Regions from separate parts of the Homo sapiens genome. Here regions 1, 2, 3 and 4 are each linked to region 5. Evidence: fine-mapped expression QTL. A gene starts in region 5. Each other region holds a variant in brackets. All regions are shown on one strand. Distances are between the middles of the regions.

Region 1 (4,671 bases), 100 kb before region 5:
GTAAAGTAACCAGCAGAGTACTTGGGACTAGGAAGTAGTTCATACATGGAAGCTGTAATTGTGGTTATTGTGGTTATTAACCCTAGACATGGCCAGATCTCCTTCATCCTTATTAGTCTTGGGGCTTCCACGTGACCCTCTTTTCCATCAACACTAATGGGAAAAGGCTTATCTTAGACCTACTCTGTTTCCTCACTCCCTCTTTGTAGCTGGACACAGTACACACAAAGAAGGCTTTGGCCCTGAATGATATAAACACGTCATGTCTATCCCTCCTAAGCTGGCCTCAGAAGTTTCCCAGTTAACTTTTTGTTGTTGGTTGATTTACATTTGCACATTCTCAGCCTCTCCTTTCTAACTCCTTCCCCTTTTGATGTCCCCCTCTGCTCACCTTGCCACTCAGCCTGGGCCACAACACCGTCTCGGTGTGAGTTTGTTACATCTACTGCTTATAGTAACTGAAAAAAGTGAGGGATCAATATAACCTCGGTTTCAGAGTGCGGAAGTTCAGAGTGGTAGGGGAAGGAGTCAGGCCTGCTCTCTAAAACAACTCACCATCAAGGGCCCCGTAATAGCTTTTGAGAACCAAGTATGTATGGGAGTGTTTGAACATAAGCACTGTGCCCATGAGTGACAAGTCCAACTCCAGTATTCAATAACCTTTAGGATTCCCCCTTTCCAGCATACCACCACTAGCTCTTCTATTCATCATGAATCTCAGCCACCTCATAGTTTACCAGTATCTTCCAGGCTTCACCTCTTTTCCTACCCAGTCCACATCCTTGGTCAGTCATTTTAATCACATCTTTGTTAATATGCTTGCACTTACTCTGTAAAAATCACACTCCTGGGTCATGCCAGCTATCTACCTTCTCTACTCTCCCATCCTAAACCAGGATAAAGGAAGTCATCCAATCCTGCACACTTAAGCTTGTGAGTGGACACCATTTAGGTTAGTCTAGCCCATGAACCCTATTCTGTGGGAATTATCGTTTCCACACCCACACTATGGATCCACAGGCCCCAGGGCCATGTTCGTCTTGTGTGACCTCTAGCACTTTAGCTGCAGTTTATTGAACTGTGAGTGGATTCCTGGTCTAAGCTGTGTTAAACAGATGTTCTCCTGAAAATCTGGGATTAGAGCTGACAGATTATGATTCTAACTGGACTGGTTTCTTAAGCAAAAGAGACATAGACTTAGGAGCTATGGTACATCTACCTCCCACCTACTATGATGAATGAGAAAAGGAAAAAGACCATCTGGGGACACAGAATGAAGCATGGAGAGGCAGAGACCAGAAATGGTGAGACTACTCTCTGCTTTCTGGCAGCTTCCCAGGCACCCCTCCCTTCCTTCCTTCTTTTTTTTTTTTTTTTTTTTTTGAGACAGGGTCTCACTGTGTTACTCAGGCTGGAGTACAGTGGTGTGATCATAGCTTACTGCAGCCTCCAAGGCTTAAGCATGCACTAACATATCTGGCTAATTAATTTTTTTTTGCAGAGATGGGGTCTCCCTATGTTGCCCAGGCTGATCTTGAACTCCTGGGCCCAAGCAGTCCTCCATCTTGTCCTCCCAAAGTACTGGGATTACAGGTGTGAGCCACTATACCCTGCCCAAGGCACTTTCTGAGGCCCTCTGATCTTGAGGGACTAGGAGTCAGTTTTTATCTAGAATAAATGGCTTAAGCTAACTTAATGTGCACTCAGTACAGAGCTCCTACAAATTCATTGTCTCCTCAGCAGAGTCCTCAGTGTACCCAGCAACCCTTCCCATGTCAGCCTCTCCCACCATCCCCCATTCTGCTTCACAGAAAAAATAAAGGCTCTGGGTGCCAGGTACTTGGGTGGCTGAGGCAGGAGGATCTCTGGAGCCCAGGAGTTCAAGGCTACAGTGAACTGTGGTTATGCCACTGCACTCCAGCCTCAGCAATGGAGCGAGACTCCCCATCTCTTTAAAAATAAATAAATAAATAAAAGGCCACGGGGGAACTGCCTCAATTTTCTGTCCCCTCCAAACATTTGAATCTCTCCCATCCTTTCTGTTTCAGAAGTGGAGAGGGCTCTCTTCAAATACAAAGTTAGTCCTTTCACTGTGATCTGTATTTCATTCCTTTTTGCCTCCTTGGGAAATTTGCTCCTT[A/T]CCTCTCTCTTTCATTTATATTCAACTTTTTCCTCTCCCCTACTCGTTGATCTCAGTATATAAGCTTGATCAACTAGCCCAACCGTAAAAAGAAAATCCAATTTGAATCCTATATGCCATGCTACTGATTTTTCTTGCCTTTAACCAAACTTCTAGGAGTAGCCTATACTCCCCCTCTCCACTTTCTTGTCTTCAGTTGTTCCTTAAATCTGGTGTCATCTGACCTCTCCCCAAAATTTCTACTGAAAATACTTTCACCAAAGTGACACATGACTTACAAATGGACAAATCCATTGGGAATTTTCAGGCTTCATTTATATGACCACACAGTGTCATTTGGCATTGTCAATCATCTTGCCCCTGCAGTTGACTGCATGGTGTCATTTGGCATTGTCAATCATCTTGCCCCTGCAGTTGACTGCATGGTGTCATTTGGCATTGTCAATCATCTTGCCCCTGCAGTTGACTGCATGGTGTCATTTGGCATTGTCAATCATCTTGCCCCTGCAGTTGACTGCATGGTGTCATTTGGCATTGTCAATCATCTTGCCCCTGCAGTTGACTGCATGGTGTCATTTGGCATTGTTGATCATCCTGCCCCTGCAACCCTTTCCTCTGTTGGCTCTTATGGGCTACACTCTTCCAGTTTCTTGCTACACCTCATATGACTCCTTCACAGTATCCTTATTATACTCCCTTTCCTTCATTCCCTACTTAAGTAGAAAAGCAGTTCAGCCCACATCCATTTCTCCTATTACTCTTCCCTGTGGCCTCCATGGCCACTTGAAGGAGATCTTGATAATTTGGGGTTGCCCAGAAACAGAATCTCCTTCTTATGTTACAAGTTTTAGAAGTAAGCAGAGCCTATCTTTCATGACAGACACTAAAAAGGTTGAATCTTTGCTTTCCCAGCTCTCTAGCTAAGACAGAGGCATGTGACCTTGGCCTGGCCAAGCATCTTCCAGAAATGTAGTTTCTGGAGTGACTCAGAGAAATAGAATCATAGAGAATTCATGCCAGTGGCAATGGTGACAGGAGAGCAGGGTCAGCTTTACCCCATGCCCAGGGACTTTCATGGTGTGGGTACTGGTAGTGGTGACATCCCATGTCCAATAATGATGACAGCAGCAGTGGTCTTGTGGAGCTGGTTCTGGCATCTGAATTTGGCCTGTGCTGTGGTGGACTGGCCTCTCATTGTTCCTGCCTATTTTCCAAGCTTGGGTCTTTTGCCTGGCAATCCCGTGACCCACCTAGTGCCCTTTCAACAAAAGTCTCATTTAAATCCACCTGAGTGACACACAGTTATAGACTGGAACTCCCAAATCTATATTTCCATCCTGTACTTCTTCTTCTTTTTTTTTTTTTTTTGACGGAGTCTCGCTCTGTTGCCAGGCTGGAGTGTGGTGGCGTGATCTTGGCTCACTGCAACCTCTGCCTCCCAGGTTCAAGCGATTCTCCTGCCTCAGCCTCCTGAGTAGCTGAGACTACAGATGCACGCCACCACGCCTGGCTAATTTTTGTATTTTTAGTAGAGACGGGGTTTCACCACATTGGCCAGGATGGTCTCAATCTCTTGACCTTGTGATCCACCCACCTCGGCCTCCCAAAGTGCTGGGATTACAGGCGTGAGCCACCGCGCCTGGCTTCCATCCTGTACTTCTTGAGTTTCAAGTTAACTTTGGTCAAGTTGTCTTTTGGACAGCTCCACTTGGATGTCACATAGGCAAACATCTTCTCACTGTATTTCTTTCATGTTCCTAACTTAGTAAATCTCACCTATGACTTATTCAGACTGAACCCTGAGAAGAAAGCATCTTAGACTTCTCCCATCCTTATTTAAATGGAACCAATTTTACCTCATAAACTCTAAATTTTACATCTTAATACATCTTCTTCTTCTTTTTCTTTCTTTCCAAACTCTGGCCTCCTGCCCTCTAGCTGCCTAAAAGCACAGAGACTCAGAAGGCAGAACAGGCCACACGCCTGGGTCTGGCTTTTCCCAAGGGATATCTTAGGTGCTGAGCAGAAAATGCAAGAAACTAAAAAGCCTGTGGAATGAGCCTCAGCCTCCTGGGGAGTAGTAGACAGGGTCTCAATATGTGGCCCAGGCTGGTCTCAAACTCCTGGCCTAAAGTTATCCTCCCACCTCGACCTCCCAAAGTGCTAGGATTACAAGTGCGAGCAAATTAATACATCTTAAATCAATCCCTCCTTTATATTCCTATTCCTCCCTACCAGAACTATCGCATTCGCCTCCTAATAGACTCCTTATCCAGTATCTACTCCTGCAATCTATTCTCCACTTAGCTGCTTAGGGGATCTTTCTAAAACTCAAATCTGATCATGTCACTCCTCTATTAAAACCCTTCAATAGGCTGGGCCCAGTGGCTCATGCTTGTAATCCTAACACTTTGGGAGGCCAAGGCGGGTGGATCACTTGAGGTTAGGCTTCGAGACCAGCCTGGCCAACATGGTGAAACCCCGTCTCTACTAAAAATACAAAAATTAGCCGGGCATGGTGGCAGACACCT
Region 2 (4,641 bases), 20 kb before region 5:
TTTCCACTCACATCTCCTCTTCCATTTCTACTGGGGCTATCTCAAGCCACCAGGATCCTAAGGCAAAACAAGATTTTTCTAGGATTCTCAATATTGGGATCCAACCCCAGAGATGAAAAAGGAGCCCTTTTTGAGGGTCCACACTTACTGTGCCCTCAGCAGATTTCCAAACAAGCTGGCTAAAAGTCTCCAGACCTAGGAAGATGTAGAGAGGCAGAGTAAAGACTCAGGGAGTGGAAAAAGAGATGTCTCTATTTGGAAGGTTCTCAATGTAGCAGAGCATAACATTTGGGTACACAGGGAAAATGGATGTAGTGTAGGCTTGACGATTTTTAACACTGATGAAAAGGGGATATTAGGAAGCCACTATCCATCTTTACTTCTGTATTTCATTTTGGGAGATGTCAGAGTAAGGGTTTTAGTGCCCTTCCTTACAACATACTAACCTTCAAAACCCACATACCTCTTATCTATATTTCCTGTGCCTTCACAAGAATATTGAGAAGAGAGGCCAAGACATATACTCATGAGGACAGACACAGAGACAACTCAGCCTGCAAGAGTTGGACTTTTCATGGATAACCCCTATCAGGAGCTAAGAGAGCTGAGAAAAGGGGTCCCAGAATAAATTGTGAGAAAGTGATCATAAGCTTGGGTTTCCAAGGAGCCTGGGTTCATGGCTGGACCTAGAAGATAAAAAAAATCATCCACTCTTCCTCTTCAGAGTCTAAGAAGAGACCCAGCTATAGGGAGCTGAGGTGTGGTGGACAGCAACTGCCCCAGAAGGACTCCCCTAGTCCACTGACACTGTCTCCTAGAGTCTAGCAAGGCCCACACACAGGTATGTTGAACCCAGAGTATTGTATGTTCTCAACAGCTGGGGCCCCTCTTCTGGAAACCCTGCAGAAGCCCCATGAAAATTATCAGAGTCCCCAGTTTCAAAGTGAAAGAATCCATGAGACCTCAGCAGTCACTCAGCACCTGATTTGAGCAGACTGCTAGTGTACTGTTTTGGCTTCTCCCCACTCTGACTCTGACACCCAGCATTCTGGAGTTCCAGGTCCTCCCTTACCTCTAGCCTGACTCACCATCAGCACCTGCATGAAAGGTACAAGAGGGCAGGAAGGGGAGGCAGCATGCTGTTGCTCCAAGCATAGAAGTGGAGCAAGGGAATGAAGACAAACTAAAGCAAGGTGTGGAATTCCGAGAGAGTTTCCCACATCATTCACCAGCAGAGGGTTTACCAAAAGTGGGAGAGATATTTGGCTAAGTCTGTATCTAGGCACCAAATGCCTTCTCAGTAAACCCAGAAGAAGGGCAAGGGCCAATAGTTTAGCCAGTAAACTCATTTTCTCCAGAAATAATGTAGTTCTAAATATTTCACTACTATTTATCTTTTTTTTTGCATGTATCTATTTCTTTTGTTATAGTTTTCCTTTTAAAAAAACCTTTCCAATTACATGTCTTTAGCAAGAGCTGGACAGACAGTGTCTGTGGTAGCATCATTCCCCCTGCCCCCAGCTACCTGTCCCCTGCTGGCACCTAGAACATCAGCCC[A/G]CAGACTCTCCTACTGCTTCCCAGAGCCCCTGACTAGGGCAGCAGCAGTTGCTGATGCTGCACAGGGTAAAACCTGTCAACTTCCAGGGACAATTCCACAGAGACGGGAAAACACGCCAATTGTTCCCATAAAAAAAGCTTCCTGGCTGGGCGCGGTGGCACACACCTGTAATCCCAGAACTTTGGGAGGCCGAGATGGGTGGATCACTTGAACTCAGGAGTTCAAGACTGGCCTGGGCAATATGGTGAAATCCCATCTCTACTAAAAATACAAGAATTAGCTGGGCATGGTGGCAGGCACCTGTAATCCCAGCTACTTGGGAGGCTAAAGAGGGAAGATTGCTTGAGCCTAGGAGGCAGAGGTTGCAGTGAGCAGGGACTGGGCCACTGCACTCCACCAACACCAACCTTCCCACATCATCCTTTCTCTCTCTCTTTTAATCAGCCCCAATTTGTTACCTCGGAGAGCTCCCCAGACAGTCTCAGAGAGGAGTAAACACTGGTCATCATTTATGGTCAGGGTATCTGAAATGACAGAAATGAACTCATTTAGTTGGTTAAGGTTTTCTATTCTCAGATTATAGACCAGATATTCTATATAAATCACTGGACTAAAAAAAAAAAACAGTAAGACCATATATTTTAAAAAATCTTTCAATGAGGAGATGTCCCCAGAGCAAGACAGCTGTAGGATGGCCTGGTCTGGGGCCAGAGTGGGAGGGTGGTCACCACAGTGACTCTGTAGACCCTGGATGATGATGTACAGCAAGAGTCAGGCTGGAGTGGAGGTCTGTACAAAGCACCACCTACCTCATGGGTCAGTTTCCACAGCAGAAAGATGAAAGAAGTCTTCTCCTGGCAAAGGGAACAGGGATGCCTGCAGGGGTGAGTGCAGCACGCGATGCTCCCAATGCCTTTGTAATCACCCTCCTTTCCCCTTCCTCTATGCTTCAGCTACTTCCTCCAAGAATGTGAGGAAGGAGCCAAACTCAACTGTTCACTTTGGAGACTGAGAAGTCCCCAAATGCTGCTCAGGGAAGACAGGAGGCAGTCACTGGACTAATGACTTAACTTCATCTCAGTATAAGTGACCAGAACCCCTGCTTTCCCCAGTGTAGGGTCTATTAGAGAAAAGTAGCAAAGTATACACTTTCCTAAAATAGAAATGTATTCAGTACACCAGGTAGAAGTCCTGTGGGACTCAGTGAAGAGCCAGTGTGATGTTCCACAGCCAACCTTTAGCACTGGTTAAGTTTCTGCATAGGAAAAACTCATCTTCCATGGCTCTCAGCACTTGGTGACCCTCGGTCCCCAGGGTCAAGGGGGACTCCAGGCCGAGCATCAGCAGTTTAGGCCAGGCCATCCAGAGTTACAGCTTCAGACAAGTGTTTGCTCTTCTAAGACAGGGAACAGGATGGTACTTACAATTCTCCACTGACTCCAAAGTAGGAAGCTGGTTACATCCAGGTGTGACTACAGAGACAACCAACACATTCTTCTCCAGTGTATGCCGTTTCCCTAGGAAGACAGGGTAAGCTTGGTGCGGCCAACCTGCCATTAGAAGCAACAGGCAAAACCAAGACCCTAGCTCTAGTCCCTCAGCTCACACGCCTGTGGTAAAGGAAAGGGAGGACATGGCATTTACCCTTGGCATAGGCAGTGCCTGATCATCTGTTCAGCTGTCTCACTCTCGTTGTGCCCCTCTTCTCCTCAGTAGCTGCCCTGACCCATGTCTGAATGCTCTGGGTGACAGCTCTTCTTAACCAGGGCTCTATATTTCTGACTGCCCTTGGCCTGTACCAAACAAACAACTCCATGACCTCAACAACTGCTTCTGAATGAAAGGCAGCTCTAGAGCACTGCTACTCCAAGTATGGTCTGCAGATTAGCTGCCAATTTGCAAACTGTGTTACTGGCTGGTCACTATATAGAAAACTTATATGAAGCCTGAATGTAAATCAATTATGTCAGAGTAAACACACTGTCTAGTTCTAACATTTTTTCATACAAGATTTTCTTGATGAAGAGATCAGTCTTACATTCTGGTACATATGCTTCTTATCTCATTGAAGATTGGCATATTAAGTAGTACTGCTCTTGAGGGCTCCAGATGAAGGGTTTCCAGTTTTGCAAAAGCCTAGGAGCTAATGGAGCAGATGACAGAAGGATCAGGCAGAGGAGGCCTGAGATGATGCAACTGATACCTCAGAGAAGATCAGGGTCACCCACCCATCTTGCTTCCTTCCTTCCTCTTCCCAAACAGGTTCTCTATCCAAGGTAGATTTTACCCTAATAGTGGAGGGTTGAACCAACATAGTATCTAATATAGCTTTACAGACCCTTGTCTATGCAGAAAAAATGCCAAAGCCAAAATATGAATACACTGTCTCTTCTCACCCTCCTGCTGGTTCTTCCCTGTGATTTTCAGGGTGGCTCTGGTGTTATAGCCCCAAGCCTTAACTTAATGAACCCCTCTCTATTCTATTCTTTCCTGGAGCCATATTCATCCCACTGGCATCACAACATCCATGACTTCTTATGGCACTACAATGTCAGGGATAGGATGGCCTGGCAGAAGGCAATGAGAGAATTCAGAACCAAACTGGAATCTCAAATGTTACCCATCTCCAGGCAGAAGGAATCCAAGCGCTCAGATCATCTCACGGAAGCCTGCTCAGACCTCTTGAGCACTACCACATGGCTGTATCTCAGCTCTTTGGTCTGCCAAGAAGCAAGCCAATAAGGGGGCCTTTCCTACCATCATGAACAACACATTCTTTCCCTTACCAGTAAATACCCTGGATCCCCACACCAATACCTGCCTACATTCTGCAAAGAGGAGGGAATCTGAGGCAACTCTGGGCCAGGTCAATTCACAGCTCCATACTTGAACCCTAAAACTACATTGTTACAACACAAAAGGACAAGCAGACCTTCAAGGCAAAGACCACACTCAAGGCAGAATCTGCAGGGCCATCCAAGCAGACAGGCTACAAACCCATCTCCACAGGAGACTCTACAGGGAGACCAATGAGGACTTAACCTAGGAGCAAGGGTGAGGAAAAACTATACCCCATCCTCTGA
Region 3 (4,726 bases), 570 kb before region 5:
TTCCAATCATCTCAACAGTTCCTGGCCAGGTGCAGTGGCTCATACCTGTAATCCCAGCACTTTGGGAAGCCGCGGCGGGCAGATCATGAGGTCAGGAGATCGAGACCATCCTGGCCAACACGGTGTAACCCTGTCTCTACTAAAAATACAAAAAAATAGCCAGGCGTGGTGGCAGGCGCCTGTAATCCCAGCTACTTGAGAGGCTGAGGCAGGAGAATTGCTTGAACCCGGGAGGTGGAGGTTACAGTGAGCAGAGATTGCACCATTGCACTCCAGCCTGGGCGACAGAGAGAGACTCTGTCTCAAAAAAAAAAAAAAAATCTCAACAGTTCCTATGGGAACATGGAAAACCCTCTGTAGGGGACACCGTATATTTTAATGCCAAGTACGTGATTCAGTAAAATAAATCCAGCATCCACTCCACTCAACATCTGTTTTCTGGGTGTTTGCGATATGTCAGGAGCTCTGACGCACATGAGCCAGTGTATCAGGACACAATGGGGTGATACTCCCAGGGGGCGGGGATGCCACCTCTGCGTCAGATAGTCTCCTGACTGTCGCTCAGCCCCTCTTTGGTGCTTTGATTTAAAAAAAAAAGTTGTGCATGAAACGCTATAGGGAACCGCTGGGGTTCTTTAGTAAGAGCTTAAATCCTCTGCCTGAAGATGCAAGTGCGTATTGGTGAAGTGTTTACTTTGCTACAATTCCAAAGAAGAAATTCTCAAGTCTCTTAGGCTACAAATTGGGGGATGGAACAGTGCAGAGCAGGCCAAACTTTTCTCATGGAGTAACACCTCCATCTTGTGGCCTTTCAGGGTATTCCAAGTGGATCCAACTACCTGCTATTTTGTGATTCTGGGTACAATAAATCAGATCTGAGAGAACTTGAGAGGTCCTCTGATTCGGTCCTCTGCCTTCACCCAGACGTGAAGCTCCACTATTAGCTCCATGATTTCCTCATAGTAACAGTCCAGAGAGGTGAAGAGACTTGGCCGAGCCCACCCAGCTAATACGCACGGTCTCATACCTGAGGCTCAATGCTACCCACTTGTCACTCTTTAGGAAGAGAAAAAAACTTCTTCAAACAAAATTTGACCAACTATGAAACAGATGAAAGCAGAGAGAGTCCCGGTAGAGACTGCAGAAGGACCCACCCTTCCCAGCACCTTCAGTCATCACGCCCTGGAAACCACTGTCTTGTGCCAGGGGGATGCTGCTTCTCTGGGTAATGGAACATCATTGTGGCAGCCTGGAAAGCCCCCTAGGACAATAGCATTCCCTTCCGAGTAGCTTATTGCTTCAATCAGTTTAGGTCCTGGCCAGGTAAATGCCTTTTATTAAAACACATTTTACACCTCTCATGGCAGAATAAACGGCCTCATAGGATAAGGGTGTGTGGCCCCGCGACTGCTGATGAGAAGTGAAGCCAGCTGGACTTCTGGGTCAGGTGGGGACTTGGAGAACTTTTTTGTCTTACAAGAGGATTGTAAAATGCCCCAATCAGCACACTATAAAATGGACCAATCAGTACTCTGTAAAATGGACCAATCAGCACACTGTAAAATGGACCAAATCAGTGCTCAGCAAAATGGACCAATCAGCAGCACATGGGCGGGGACAAATTAGGGAATAAAAGCTGGCCACCCCAGCCAGCCCTGGTAACCAGTGGGAGTCCAGTTTGGTGCAGTGGAGTCTTTGTTCATTCGCTTTTCACAGTAAATCTTGCTGCTGCTCACTCTTTGGGTCTGTGCCACCTTTAAGAGCTTTAACACTCACCGGGAAGGTCCGCAGCTTCATTCTTGAAGCCAGCGAGACAAAGAACCCACCGGAAAGAACCAACTCCGGGCCTCCGGACACCATTGGGACCTGCAATTGCTGGGACCCGGTCCCGGGAGGATGCCCGAGAGATGCCCACAGGGCCCCGGGCAGGGCAGAAAGCCGAAGCCGCCGCAGGCTGCCAGGACTAGGGCAAGCTTACGTCCACTCAGGCGGTCAACAAATAATTATCAGACTCCTTCTACGTGTCATGCCGTTGAACAAGATCGACAAGACCCTGGTCTCACAAAGCTTCTGTGCACATTGGAGGAGCCGGGTGACTGCAAAGAAAGGGCGTAAGATTGTTTCTGATAGGGCCTGGGATGTGAGGAGCGATGATAGAGTGCGTGCTCTCAGGAGAGACCTTGGAGCTGGTCTTGAA[G/A]TGTGAGGAGGAGTCGGTTGGAGAAAGAGGGAAAGAACAGGCCGAGCCGAGCCAGAACCGGGTATAGCCAGAAGCGCGAAGGAGAGAGCCAGCACTCGAGGTCAGAGGAAGCGCAAGGTGGCACCGGCCCCTCTCGCTGCGCTTTTTGTCCTTCCAGGAGGGGGCGCTGGTCCACCGACTGGCCCGGCAGTTCCCCAGTAGCACCGGGGGTTTCCTGCCGCGCGCGTCACCTGGTTCAGTTTAGAGCCTCCAAAGCTGCAAGGCAAGGCGAAGATGGGCAGTGGAGACAGAGTAGGGTGGGGAGGGTCCAAGCTGAGGAGCCTGTAGAGCGTCTAAAGTCATCAGTGGCACCTGTTGTTTCATTGTTCGTGTAGGCAGCTTGTATGTGTATACATATTTTAAACTTATTACCTAACATTTCAATCACAAAAGCAATTAGAGATAAAAGGTCCATGACACCCATGTACCCATCACCCATATCAATAACTATCACCTTCAGTCCTCAGTTCATCTACTCCCTCTTTTCATTCATTCGTTTATTAAAAAAAAACAACAACAAAAAAAAAAACAGTCTTTAAAAGCAAATCCAAGACATTGACTCACTTCTGTAAATACTTCAGAGTATATCTCTAGCAGGATTATTTTTTAATTAAACATATCCACAATACCATTGTCATAACAAACTAATAACCCCTTAATATATTCTAATTGTATATATTGTTTTTAAATATTTTATCTTCAAAATAATTCGACTTCCACAGAAGTTTTTGTTTTGTTTTTTGTTTGTTTGTTTCTGAGACAGAGTCTTGCTCTGTTGCCCAGGCTGGAGTGCAATGGCATGATTTTGGCTCACTGCAACCTCCGCCTCCTGGGTTAAAGTGATTCTCCTGCCTCAGCCTCCCGAGTAGCTGGGACTACAGGCGCCTGCTTATAGACAAGGATAATAATGACAATGCTTATCTGATTGTGTTGTCGTGAGGATTAAATGAGTTTACACATATAAACGCTTAGAACTGTGTCTGGCACATAAAATTTCTTAATAAATATTTTCCATTATTATTACAGCTCGTATTTTTTAAAAATTAACCCGTCTCTTTTAAAAAGACAAAAAAGCTTTATTTTATCTTGATTATAATTCTAGGCCAAGCACACTGACTTACGCCCTGTAATCCCAGCACTTTGGAGACCAACGCAGAAGGATCGCTTGAGCCCAGGGGTTCGAGACCAACCTGAGCAACATAGGGAGACCCCCATCTCTACAAAAAAATTAAAAATTAGCCGGGTGTGGTGGCACACACCTGTGGTCCCACCTACTCAGGAGGTTGAGGCAGAAGGATTGCTTGGGCCCAGAAGGTCGAGGCTGCAGTGAGCCATGATCACGCCACACTGCACCCCAGCCTGGGTGACAGACCGAAATCCTGTCTCAAAAAAAAAAAAAAGAAAAGAAAAGAAAATGAAAAAAGAATGCATACTCTGAGCCTGAGAGCCAGATAACTTTTTGGACACAGCCCTGACTGCTGTTCCTCCATGGTGTCCTCACCACCAGCATAAATGAACTGGTCAGTCAGCTAGTGTACCCTGGTGTGGTTGTGCCTGTTGTTAAACGTTTAAAAATAGTTCTATACTGGTTTTCAAATAGCTTCCTGCCCCAGCCTGCCCCCAGTGTTCTGGCCCCTCCCAGGGTCTCCAGATCTGCCCATGGCCCAGCAACTAAAGGGTTTACACCTGGTGCAGCAGGTGGACGGGCGGCCTCTGCACTGGGGGCTGCAGCTGTTCCAAGCAGCGGAGGCTCAGGCCAGAGCAGCCGCTAGAGATTTAGGTCCTCCTCTTGGGTGAAGAGGGAGAGAAAATGAAAGCATGGGGAGCTTCTCATTTTCACACATAAAGACTGAATTTCTTTATAAATATTTCCTATCATTATTAGTATAGGTAATATTGATTTCAAATTAGTCTCTTTTTTTAAAATACAAAGAACTGTATTTTATCCAGGTTAGAGCTGTAATACATGTGTATTATTAAACATTCAAATGAAACAGAAATATTTGCCTGTGGGGAGAATGTCTGCGGTGGCCTCTGGTGACAGCTCTGCAACAGAACTGAGACAGCCACCTCGCATGGTGCTTGGGAGTCAAGCCAAGCTAACCTGGAGGTCTTTCCTGTCAGTCATCTCGGGTACAGAGGAGGAAGAGGTGACCCAGGGTGGAGCAACAGATGGTGCATGTTCCAGACAGGCTGCTTTTTGTCTGCCTGTCCCAGGACAGGGCAGGGCCCCCGCCAGCCCTGCTTAGACCTTTAGAAGAGTTCAAGGGGAAAAAGACTTTACTAGTCAAGGGCTGGGAAAACTGTGCAGGGGAATATCTGATCATTTCTAAATGTTATCTTGAAAAGAAAAGAAAGAAGCTTTATTGAGAAACATTCCCGCTGGTGTCTGCCTCTCGGAGCCCTGCACCTTCCACTCCCTGCTCTAGAAAGAAAACCATTGATTCATTTAGGTCCTGCCAAGGAGACAAGCATCCCATGATCTTCAGC
Region 4 (4,726 bases), 32 kb before region 5:
GGTACCTGGCATGCAGCCTCAGCTCCTACCAAGGAGAGGAGAGGTTGAAGACTCTCCCAGTCTCCATTCACTCCTTTGCTTTGATACCCGTTAGGCCTGCTTTGCCTCCTTAATAGACTCCTGGAATGGGAAGGGGTGGGGGTGGGGAGCGACTGGAGAACTCTTTTCCTAGGATGACTGGAGCCAGGAAGTCAGTCTGGAAACTTCCCCACCCCCTGGTGGTGCACAGCACACAAGATGGCCTGTGTTCCGCTCAGGGGTGGGACTTTCAATTTACAGCCTAGGTGAAGGGAGATGAGTTGGGGCAACAGCGATTCTGTTCATTGGAACAGACTGGGTGGTAACTGCAGGCCACTGCAGTTGACCTGTTGGCATTCGAGGTCTGACGACCTTCAGGTAAATGCTCTTATGATCAGTGGACCAAAGGAGCAACGGTGGAGGGTGAGGAACAGCACACTTTACCAATGAAAGTCGTGACCAGGCCACGTTAGTTTAGTGGTAAAAATAATAACATTAAAGAAAATGTTTACAACAGGAATAGAAAATGACAGAACCCTACTGCTTTAACTCAAGTGTATCACGATCTCTGCCTTCATCCACTTGAGACTTAAAACTCAGTGTCTGCTATTTTTACTTAACATTATCCCAAGCAATAGTAACATGAAAGTTATGACCAGGAGGGAAGCAGGGTCGCACCTGTGCAGGGTCCTTGTCTGCGGACCACCCCTCCTACAAGCTTCTGGGTAATAGAGGTAAGGGGGCTCCTGTGGTGGGTGCCAGTGCTGGGACCTTAACTTGTGTATCTGGGCTATAGCCCTGGACTTGGCTAGGCTGGGCTGTGTGAAAATTCCAAGAATTCTGTTGGTAGAAAATGCCCACCCTGTCCTTACAGGAACAGCACAAGGCTAGGCTTGTCTACCTCCCACCAGGACCTCGAAGGAACATGACCCAGGGGCTGAAGGATGGTGTTGAAGGACCGAGTTTTACTCAGATCCTTCTCAGCCCTGCCTTCCTGAAGTTTCTGTATCCACTACACTGGAAGCTTTCTGAAAAAAATGCCTGGAACCTGTCCATTGTTACCCCAGCCCAGGGCCCAGCCAAAGAACTTAACAAATAACCGCCAAGGAAATCCTCACCTAAAATGGCTGCGATGCATTACTGCCCCCGCCTCTGGCTTACAGTATCACTTCTGCATCTGAAACCAGGAGGGGGCAGTCTGGGTCCACGACGAGACATTTCCTTCTAGAGAAAATCACACCTGCAAAGACCCTCTCCAGAGCCACCGCCCACCTCCGCGCAGCCATCCATTCCCTGCGAAGATGCTTTGGGCTGAAAATGGTTGGGAGGAGGGGGATGGAAGTCGCCTACGTTATTTTGGAATTGACCAGGGCCTCTGAGTCCTTCAAATTCAACAATTTACCACAGGCCCGCGTGCGGTGGCTCACGCCTCTAATCCCAGCACTTTGGGAGGCCAAGACAAGTGAACATCTGAGGTCATGAGTTCAAGACCAGCCTGGCCAATATAGTGAAACCCCATCTCTACTAAAAATAGATGAATTCGGCCGGGCGCGGTGGCTCACGCCTGTAATCCCAGCACTTTGGGAGGCCAAGGCGGGCGGATCACGAGGTCAGGAGATCGAGACCATCCTGGCTAACACGGAGAAACCCCATCTCTACTAAAAATACAAAAAATTAGCCGGGCGTGGTGGCGGGCGCCTGTAGTCCCAGCTACTGGGGAGGCTGAGGCAGGAGAATGGCGTGAACCCAGGAGGTGGAGCTTGCAGTGAGTCGAGATCGTGCCACTGCACTCCAGCCTGTGTGACAGTGAGACTCCGTCTCAGAAAAAAAAAATATATATATATGAATTAGATGGACATGGTGGCACGTGCCTATTAATTCCAGTTACTCAGGAGGCTGATGCACGAGAATCGCTTGAACCCAGGAGGCAGAGGCTGCAGTGAGCCAAGATTGTGCCACTGCACTGTCAGCCTGGGCGACAGAGTTTTTGAGACAGTCTCAAAAACAAAAACAACAAAAAAACCCACTACCACAGTGCCTAGAGAACAATATGTGTTTAATAATATTTAAATAATGGTTGTATAAAATTGAAGCAGCAAGAAACCCAAAGGAGAATAGCTCTAGGGGAGGGAGGTGGATGAGTATGCATGGGGGAGAGGCTCTTCTGTGACCAGGTTGGGTCTGGAGCCCTCCCCACTGTCCAGAACACCTCCAAGCCCCTACATCTTTTTCCATATACCAACGCCTTGGAGATATAATGCAGAAGTGAAGTGAGCAGGCTGAGGATTAGGGCAGGTGTCTGGAATATGGTCAGGAGTGGGAGGGGAGTGACATAGCTCACAGGCAAGGCAGAACAGCACAAAGGCTATAGGTTTCATTCCCAGCCCTCAACTTAAAAGACCTCAGGGGCAGACACTGACTCCAGCCTGGCTGTGCCCTTACCCTAACGCCATTCACACTTTTTTTTTTAAACACAGGTAATCCATGTTTATTATAGAAAAATGCCACATTACTCTTTATTGAATGCGAGCGCCAGCACCGGCCCCTTTCTCTCCAAGCACAGGGGCACGCAGGCAAGGGGCACGAAGGCAAGGGGCTCCGTC[C/T]CCTGGCCAGGATGCAGTGGAAGCCTGGCTCCACTACCATTCACCTACAGCCAGCACCCTCCTCGGTGCCTGGGGCTCAGGTCTGTTCAAACTCCTGCTCACAGAAGCCTACATTGAGGGGTTGGGCCTGGACACCTCGCCTGCAAGAGGACATGAAGAAATGGCAAGATAAGCCCCTCAGAAGGGGCCCCAGCAACACTTTTCACACCAGTCAACAGTCTCTCCTTCCCCATTTCGGTGACTCTCAAACTGTCACTGTACACCAAATGCACCTGGGAATCTCAATTCCAGAGATTCTCACCTGGGGTGGGGCAAAGTATTGGCAAGAATCTGCAAGCTGAACAGGTGCCTCAGGTGATTCTGATACAGGTCTTGGAGATCCAGAAACGTTGGCGACATCTATTTATATCCTGCCCATCTCTGTACCCTAACCCCAAATAACTCAATCCCTTTAGAATATAGATGGATGTCTGAAAGGCAGCCAATGCTCTTGGTCTACTTAGCCCTCTGTTCCTGACTCTAAAATGCTGTAAATATGGTGGCACTGGGGGACTTAGGTGCTGTCCTGTCCATGAACATGGATGCGAAATCCTGTCCTTGGGTCTCAGTCTATAACCTGACCAATCTCCTTAGGGGACCTCTAGGCATGCTTCCCTTATCATCCAAGTAAGCAACATGCTTAGAGAACCAGCTGGAAGTTACCCAGTGAATGACATAATTGAGGCTTAGACACCATCATGCTTGACTCTCAGCCCAGGACTCTGCTCTGCACTAGGCTATGTCCCCCAAGTACTCAAGACCTAGCCAACGAAGGAATCAGGGAAATGACTATCTTACACAGGCACATCCCTGACAGAGGCAAAGGTGTCATGACATCCTGTAAGTCAGCCTGGTTCAAATCCTGCTTCTTAGTGACTTTGGGCAAGGTCCTGAACTCTGTGCTTCAGTGTCTATCTCTAAAATGCACCTGTCTCATGGGGCTGTGGTGAAGACTAAATGAGACAATATTTGTAACAAACTTAGCACAGTGTTTGCCACAAAATACAGTTGTCCCTCAGTATCCACAGGGGATTTGTTTCAGGACCCCCGTGGATACCAAAATCCAAGGATGCTCAAGTCCCTTATATAAAAATGACATAGTATTTGCATATAACCAATGTACAACTTCCCATATACTTGAAATGATCTTAGATTACTTATACCTAATACAATATAAATGCTATGTAAATAGTTGTTATACAGTATTTTTTATTTGTACCATTTTTTGTTGTATTTTTTTTTTCCTGAATACTTTTTATCGCAGTTGGTTGAATCCGTGGATGAGGGCTGACTATAAGCCTCTGTAAGTGTTAGCTATTGTTAATTATTGTCTTCCTCTCTCTAAGGGGTTCCCCAGCCCTGGATCTGGCCTGCTCCGCCTTGCGAAGGCCCCACAGCTTGCTTACCTCAGCAATTCACAGCGGAAGTGTGACAAACGTTCATAGGCAAATGTCAGGTCAGATGTCAACTTGTTGCTCCACAGCCTTTCGGCAACAGCCCCTGCTCTGGGCCTGGAGGAAAAGGGGCATGTGCCAGATTGGGCCCTGTATTCCCTGCAAAGGTGCTGGACATCCACAGGCTGCTACCTCTTGTCTAGGCACCCTGGACTCACTCAGGCCAAAGGAAGTGATCAATACCTTGTTATGAGCCACAGCCAGGTTGGATGGCTCCCAGAGAGTTCTACGGCTCAGCTCCACCTTCATTAAAATGTGGGTAGCAATCCCACTCTCTTCCTCTCTCAAAGATATGGGAATAAGAATAAACCTTAAAGCCATCATTAACCACAATGACAGTGGCAGCAGCAGAGGTCCTTAAAATGTAAACTTTGCACACCCAACCATACTTGGTAAGGCTGCAGTGAAAACAGCAGAGGGAAGCCTTATTACAGGAATCATGGATGCTTGTGCTGGGTCTTGAGCAACTCACCTATGTTCTCCAGGCCTCATTATCTCTCTGGGAAGTAAGGTTAACAATCCCTATCCCACATACCAAAGGGCAGCTGGAGGGATATAGACGGAAGTCATGTGGAGAGTGAATATTGCACACAAATCTTCAGAAGGCTCGTT
Region 5 (4,726 bases):
TATGTTGCCTTCTTTACTAAAATCAGACTCATAAAGAAATGTATTCTGGCTTCAGCCTTGTTGGTATTGCTCTACCTCTATTTGTTTCCCATGCTATTGCTTCATCCTTGTTTCTGCAGAACTAGGATTTTAGCTCAAAGTCACCTAAAAGCCTCCACAGGAAACTACATTCCAAAGGGAAGACTCCATGGGAAGAGCAATAGAGAAAGAAGTTACTTTTAAGTCTTTGGTAATGTTCACCCAACCCAGTTTTCATTTTCTCTCAATGGACAAGAACCCTCAACTAATAAAGCTAATGAACTTACAGGAAGGTAATATATGGAAATAAACATCTTATTGAATTTATCTGGCTCTAAATCTCTTTTGTTAGGGAATTTATAGTATTCCATTATCTTACAATCTCTCCATTTCTATCTACTTGATTAAACTATGGTGCTATAGCAATGGAGGTGAAGGCCTAATTTAGAAGTATAGGAATTAGGTATGGCGCGGTGGCTCATGCCTGTAATCTCAGCACTTTGGGAGGCTGAGGTGGGTGGATCACTTGAGGCCAGGAGTTTGAGACCAGCCTGGCCAACATGGTGAAACCCCATCTCTACTAAAAATACAAAAATTAGCTGGGCGTGGTGGCAAGCACGTGTAGTCCCACCTACTCGGGAGGCTGAGGCAGGAGAATCGCTTGAACCCAGGAGGCGGAGGCTGCAGTGAGCCAAGATCGTATCACTGCACTCAGCCTCAGTGTAGGCTGAGTGATAAAGCGAGACTCCGTCTCAAAAAAAAAAAAAAAAAGGAAAGGAATTATTCTCATGTATACAATAGTAGGAAACAACCTATAAAGCTTTTGAGAATCTTATAATTCACTGTGTACCTCCCTCTGTTTCATATTTTCGCAATTGAACTATAGAGCCTAGGCCTAGGTCTTAAGACTTTTCTTGTAACCTTCAGAGTGCCCAGCACTGGGATTGACATATACCAGTTAGACGGATTTTTTTTTCCATAAACCAGGCTCAAACTCTTCTAAACCAAAATCAACATATTCTGAGTGCCAATCTTGGGTAAGGCACTCTATTATTTGTCATGAAGGATTCAGAGGAAAATGTGATCTACCACACTCAACAGCAGGCCTCTTATCCTCTCCAGCTTAATGCATTTTACCAGTTAAGGACTACCCTGATGCTGAGATTGTGTTTCTTTCCCCAAATCAAATGTCACTCTCTAAGGGTCATCTGTATAATTAAATGCTTTTAATTCTATATATCAAATGATAACTTTTGTGAAAGTAATTTAAACACACTTGAAACATCATATAAAATATTACTACAAGACTTAACCGTAAATGTGGCTCCCACCCCCATAACATCTATACAATATAACCAAAGAGCTAGATTCCAGATTATCAAGAAACTTCTAAATTTTGAACCCATGCAGCAGAATTGTATTCCTTTACATTGTTGGCTCGACTTACAAATGTGCTGTGGAATAATTATCCTCAAATACAATTTTCAGTACTGATTACATAGCTGCCTAAAAGAAAACTGTTAGCCCCTTCCATTTTATGTGAAACCAATGTCTAAAGCGCTCTTGACTCTTCAACCCCACATTTTCCCCACCCTCATCCCTCCTCAATCCCCAGCCCCCACTCATCACATCCACTAGACCTGAACTTTGAACTCAATCATAATTCTTTGTGCCTCTGCTCAAGCCCTTCTTCCTGCCTGGAATACCCTCTTTTCAGTCCCGGCTAATTACATCTACCATCCCATTCCAAGTGGCCGCTGGAAACTCACTTCCTTATGTTCTATGATTTCTTTCACAATTTACACTTTTTTTGTTTTGTTTTGTTTTGTTTGGGGGGGGGGGTTGTTTTTCTGAGAGGGAGTCTTGCTCTGTTGCCCAGGCTGGAGTGCAGTGGCGCGATCTCAGCTCACCACAACCTCCACCTCATGGGTTCAACCGATTCTCCTGCCTCAGCATCCCGAGTAGCTGGGACTACAGGCGCGCGCCGCCACGCCTGGCTAATTTTTTGTGTTTTTGGTAGAGACGGGGTTTCACTATGTTGGCCGGGCTGGTCTCGAACTCCTGACCTCGTGATCCGCCCGCCAAACATTCTATGTGCCAGAAACTTGTATGTAACTTTGCATAGTTCTTGTATTATGTCTCCCCAATTTTGAGTGTTTTCTCTGGTCTCTACTCAGCCCTTGCTCACAGTCTCACTAGGACCCTGGCTAGCTTGAACACGGTCAGAAGGATCACCTTAGATTTCTGCTGGCACAGTATTTTCCATAAATTAATCTCCTGATTGAACCGTAGTCCTATAGTAGTTATCTTTGGATGAAAACCTAATGCAGCTCGAGGAGGAAGTGGAGTGCCTGTGATCAGAGGGCTGGACAAAAGCCCATAGGGCGTCTCTGGAGCCCTGGGGGAACTGTCCCCAGGCAGGCACTCTCAGGGCCCAGGAACAGGGCGGGACAAGTCCGACTCACCTGTGAGGTAAGGACGGGGCCAAGACCCGGAACCGAAAAGCAGGTCACGATAGCGCTGGAAGGCCTCGTCGAGGACTGAGCAGCCGGGCTGCGCGGCCGAGCTGACATCGTACTGGAATTGAAAGTTGTTCGGGTAAAGGACGTAGCGCTGGTCGGAGGTTTGGAAGTTCTGAGGCCAGGGCCAGAGGGCCGTCGCCCGTCCTGCGAACGCTGCCGCCAGCAGCAGCGAAAACCAAAGCCTGGAGCTTGTCATGGCCCGCTGGTCTCCCCTCTCGGAGGGGGCTGGCCACGTGAGACCCTGGTCAGGTGAGCGGCGCCCCCGTGACTTATCGGCGAATCACGTGACCAGAGGCGGCTCTGCGCCTGCGACCCCAGGAGGACCCACACCCTGCCCTTTCACTTCCGGCCTGGACCTGAGGCTCCTGCTACGTGCAGCGGATTGTGCCGGGCGTCGGCAACTGCTCGGCTCGCCAGACTGTTCACGGGCCCAGTAGAGCAGTAAATAACCGGCCACCCCTGCGGCCGTGCCGGCCGTGATGGAACTAGACAGCTCACCCGACTCGAGAAGAACGGGGTGGGGAGGCGAGGACGCAGGGCGACCTGGAGAAGAAAGTTTCCCAGATGGCTCTAGGGTGAATCTTGAATGTTGTGATGCAGCTCGCCAGGCCTACGGGGAGGTAAAGGACTTGCCAGGCTGAAGTAACTTCAGAAGCAGAAAAACGGAGGATTAAAACCACAAGTCGTTGTGATGTGAAATTTCGTGGGGCAAGAAAGGGCCGGAAGTAGGTAGTCTGCACGGCTCTGCTAGAGAGAGGATCACAAGATCACACAAATGTGATCTACTTATGACTGGAAAAAATGTGTACTTTCAGAGCCAGCTTGAGGCATTCCATTGCCTCCAATATGAGCTCTTCCCTTCAAGATTGACTATAAATCTCTTAGTTACAACTCACATCCCCTTTCCCCAGACAAAACCCCACATAGCCCGGTGTGTATTTACTGAAAGCAGTAAGATATTGCTGGGGCTTTGGGTGCAAGATGGAGAGTGCTCAGAGATAATGACAGGGGCCTGGTCCTGCAGGGCCTTACGTAGAAAGTCAAGGAATTTATTCTCTGAGCAATTGAAAATCATCCCGAAAGATCTGCATTTTAGAAATACCATGTTGAGTAGTTGCATAAGAAACCAGTTAGGAGGCCCCTTTTTATTGGAGGTAGAGAATAATGAGAGACTGAACTACAGAAGTGGGGAAGGAAGACAGCTGTAGATCCAAGAAATAGTATCCGGAAGAGAGGCTTGAGAAGTGATCAAGGAGAATTCCACAGTTATCAGAGACCCTGTCTTCCTTGTTCACCACTATATTACCAGAACATAATACAAATAATGCTATTGTTATTGGGTGGCATTATTTGGTTAGTAGGTACTTTTTAAAATTTTTAAATTTAATTTTAGTATTAAAATACATGTAAAGATCAGGAAAATGAACTTTTAAAAATAAAGGGCTTTCACTGGGCATGATAACACATCCCTGTAGTCCCAGCTACTCCCAGCTATTCAGGAGGCTGAGGCGGCAGGATCACTTGAACCAAGGAGTTCAAGTTTAGCCTGGGCAGTATAGTGAAACCCTTTCTCAAAAACAAATAAAGGGCTACTGAAATAATGATAATTTATATTCAGGTCGTAGGTACCTAATTACTAGTTACACATACATGGCTTTGATGGGAAATCAAAGAAACATTCTGACAATACAGAGATTCATCAAGCAATTTGTCTTTGAAAGTTGATTATTCAAAAACAGAGCTTGTAGCAAAAGAAGCAGAAATTAGATCCCACAGTCATCAAGTTTCAGATCCTAAGGCTTGCATTCTTACACCAATTTCTTCTTTGCTTAAATCTTAATTTTCATCAGCATTAATTAAGTGTCTGGGTACTCTGCCAGTCAGGAGAGATGTTACCAAAGGTACAGGATTTGAGAAGTATTGTCAGAAGAGCCAAGTTCATAATCAGGCCCACAGGATCAATAATTTGGGGGAGTGTTTAGAGCAGTTTCAAAGATGAGAGCAGTAGATCAAAGTAGAATTTCAGGACTGAGCACATGCCAAGGCACCCTTTTATGGATATTCAACCTGTACCAGAAGGGAGGAGTCATTTACTTAAAAGAGTTACACAAGATGAAAGAGCTAGATCCAAATAAAGACGCTATAAAAATTACTAATGGGGCTGAGCATGGTGGATTACAGGGATT

What was found. PIP is the estimated chance that this variant, and not a neighbour inherited with it, causes the effect.
Region 1: its variant is fine-mapped to the expression of HEXA in whole blood (TOPMed, PIP 0.94).
Region 2: its variant is fine-mapped to the expression of HEXA in lung (TOPMed, PIP above 0.99).
Region 3: its variant is fine-mapped to the expression of HEXA in putamen (GTEx, PIP 0.98).
Region 4: its variant is fine-mapped to the expression of HEXA in whole blood (TOPMed, PIP 0.94).

Annotation. Positions count from the first base shown.
Region 1 is chr15:72,273,392-72,278,062 of GRCh38, forward strand. No RefSeq gene overlaps it. Among named protein-coding and RNA genes, the nearest start is that of PARP6, 3.2 kb to the left of the region's middle. The variant A/T (reference allele first, on the strand shown) is at 2,141.
Region 2 is chr15:72,353,543-72,358,183 of GRCh38, forward strand. HEXA (hexosaminidase subunit alpha) reads right to left here. Exons shown (of 14, transcript NM_000520.6): 2 at 2,983-3,075; 3 at 2,017-2,082; 4 at 149-195. Among named protein-coding and RNA genes, the nearest start is that of HEXA, 20 kb to the right of the region's middle. The variant A/G (reference allele first, on the strand shown) is at 1,558.
Region 3 is chr15:71,800,540-71,805,265 of GRCh38, forward strand. No RefSeq gene overlaps it. Among named protein-coding and RNA genes, the nearest start is that of NR2E3, 7.7 kb to the right of the region's middle. RefSeq lists a silencer at 2,211-2,505 and an enhancer at 4,226-4,295. The variant G/A (reference allele first, on the strand shown) is at 2,198.
Region 4 is chr15:72,341,380-72,346,105 of GRCh38, forward strand. It overlaps HEXA (hexosaminidase subunit alpha), which reads right to left. Exons shown (of 14, transcript NM_000520.6): 13 at 4,067-4,171; 14 at 1-2,761. The coding sequence ends at 2,698. Among named protein-coding and RNA genes, the nearest start is that of CELF6, 24 kb to the left of the region's middle. RefSeq lists an enhancer at 979-1,478. The variant C/T (reference allele first, on the strand shown) is at 2,622.
Region 5 is chr15:72,373,237-72,377,962 of GRCh38, forward strand. HEXA (hexosaminidase subunit alpha) reads right to left here and starts at 2,778. Exons shown (of 14, transcript NM_000520.6): 1 at 2,484-2,778. The coding sequence starts at 2,736. HEXA-AS1 (HEXA antisense RNA 1) reads left to right here and starts at 2,877. Exons shown (of 1, transcript NR_027262.1): 1 at 2,877-4,726. RefSeq lists enhancers at 2,014-2,569, 2,570-3,126, 3,018-3,157, 3,488-3,537.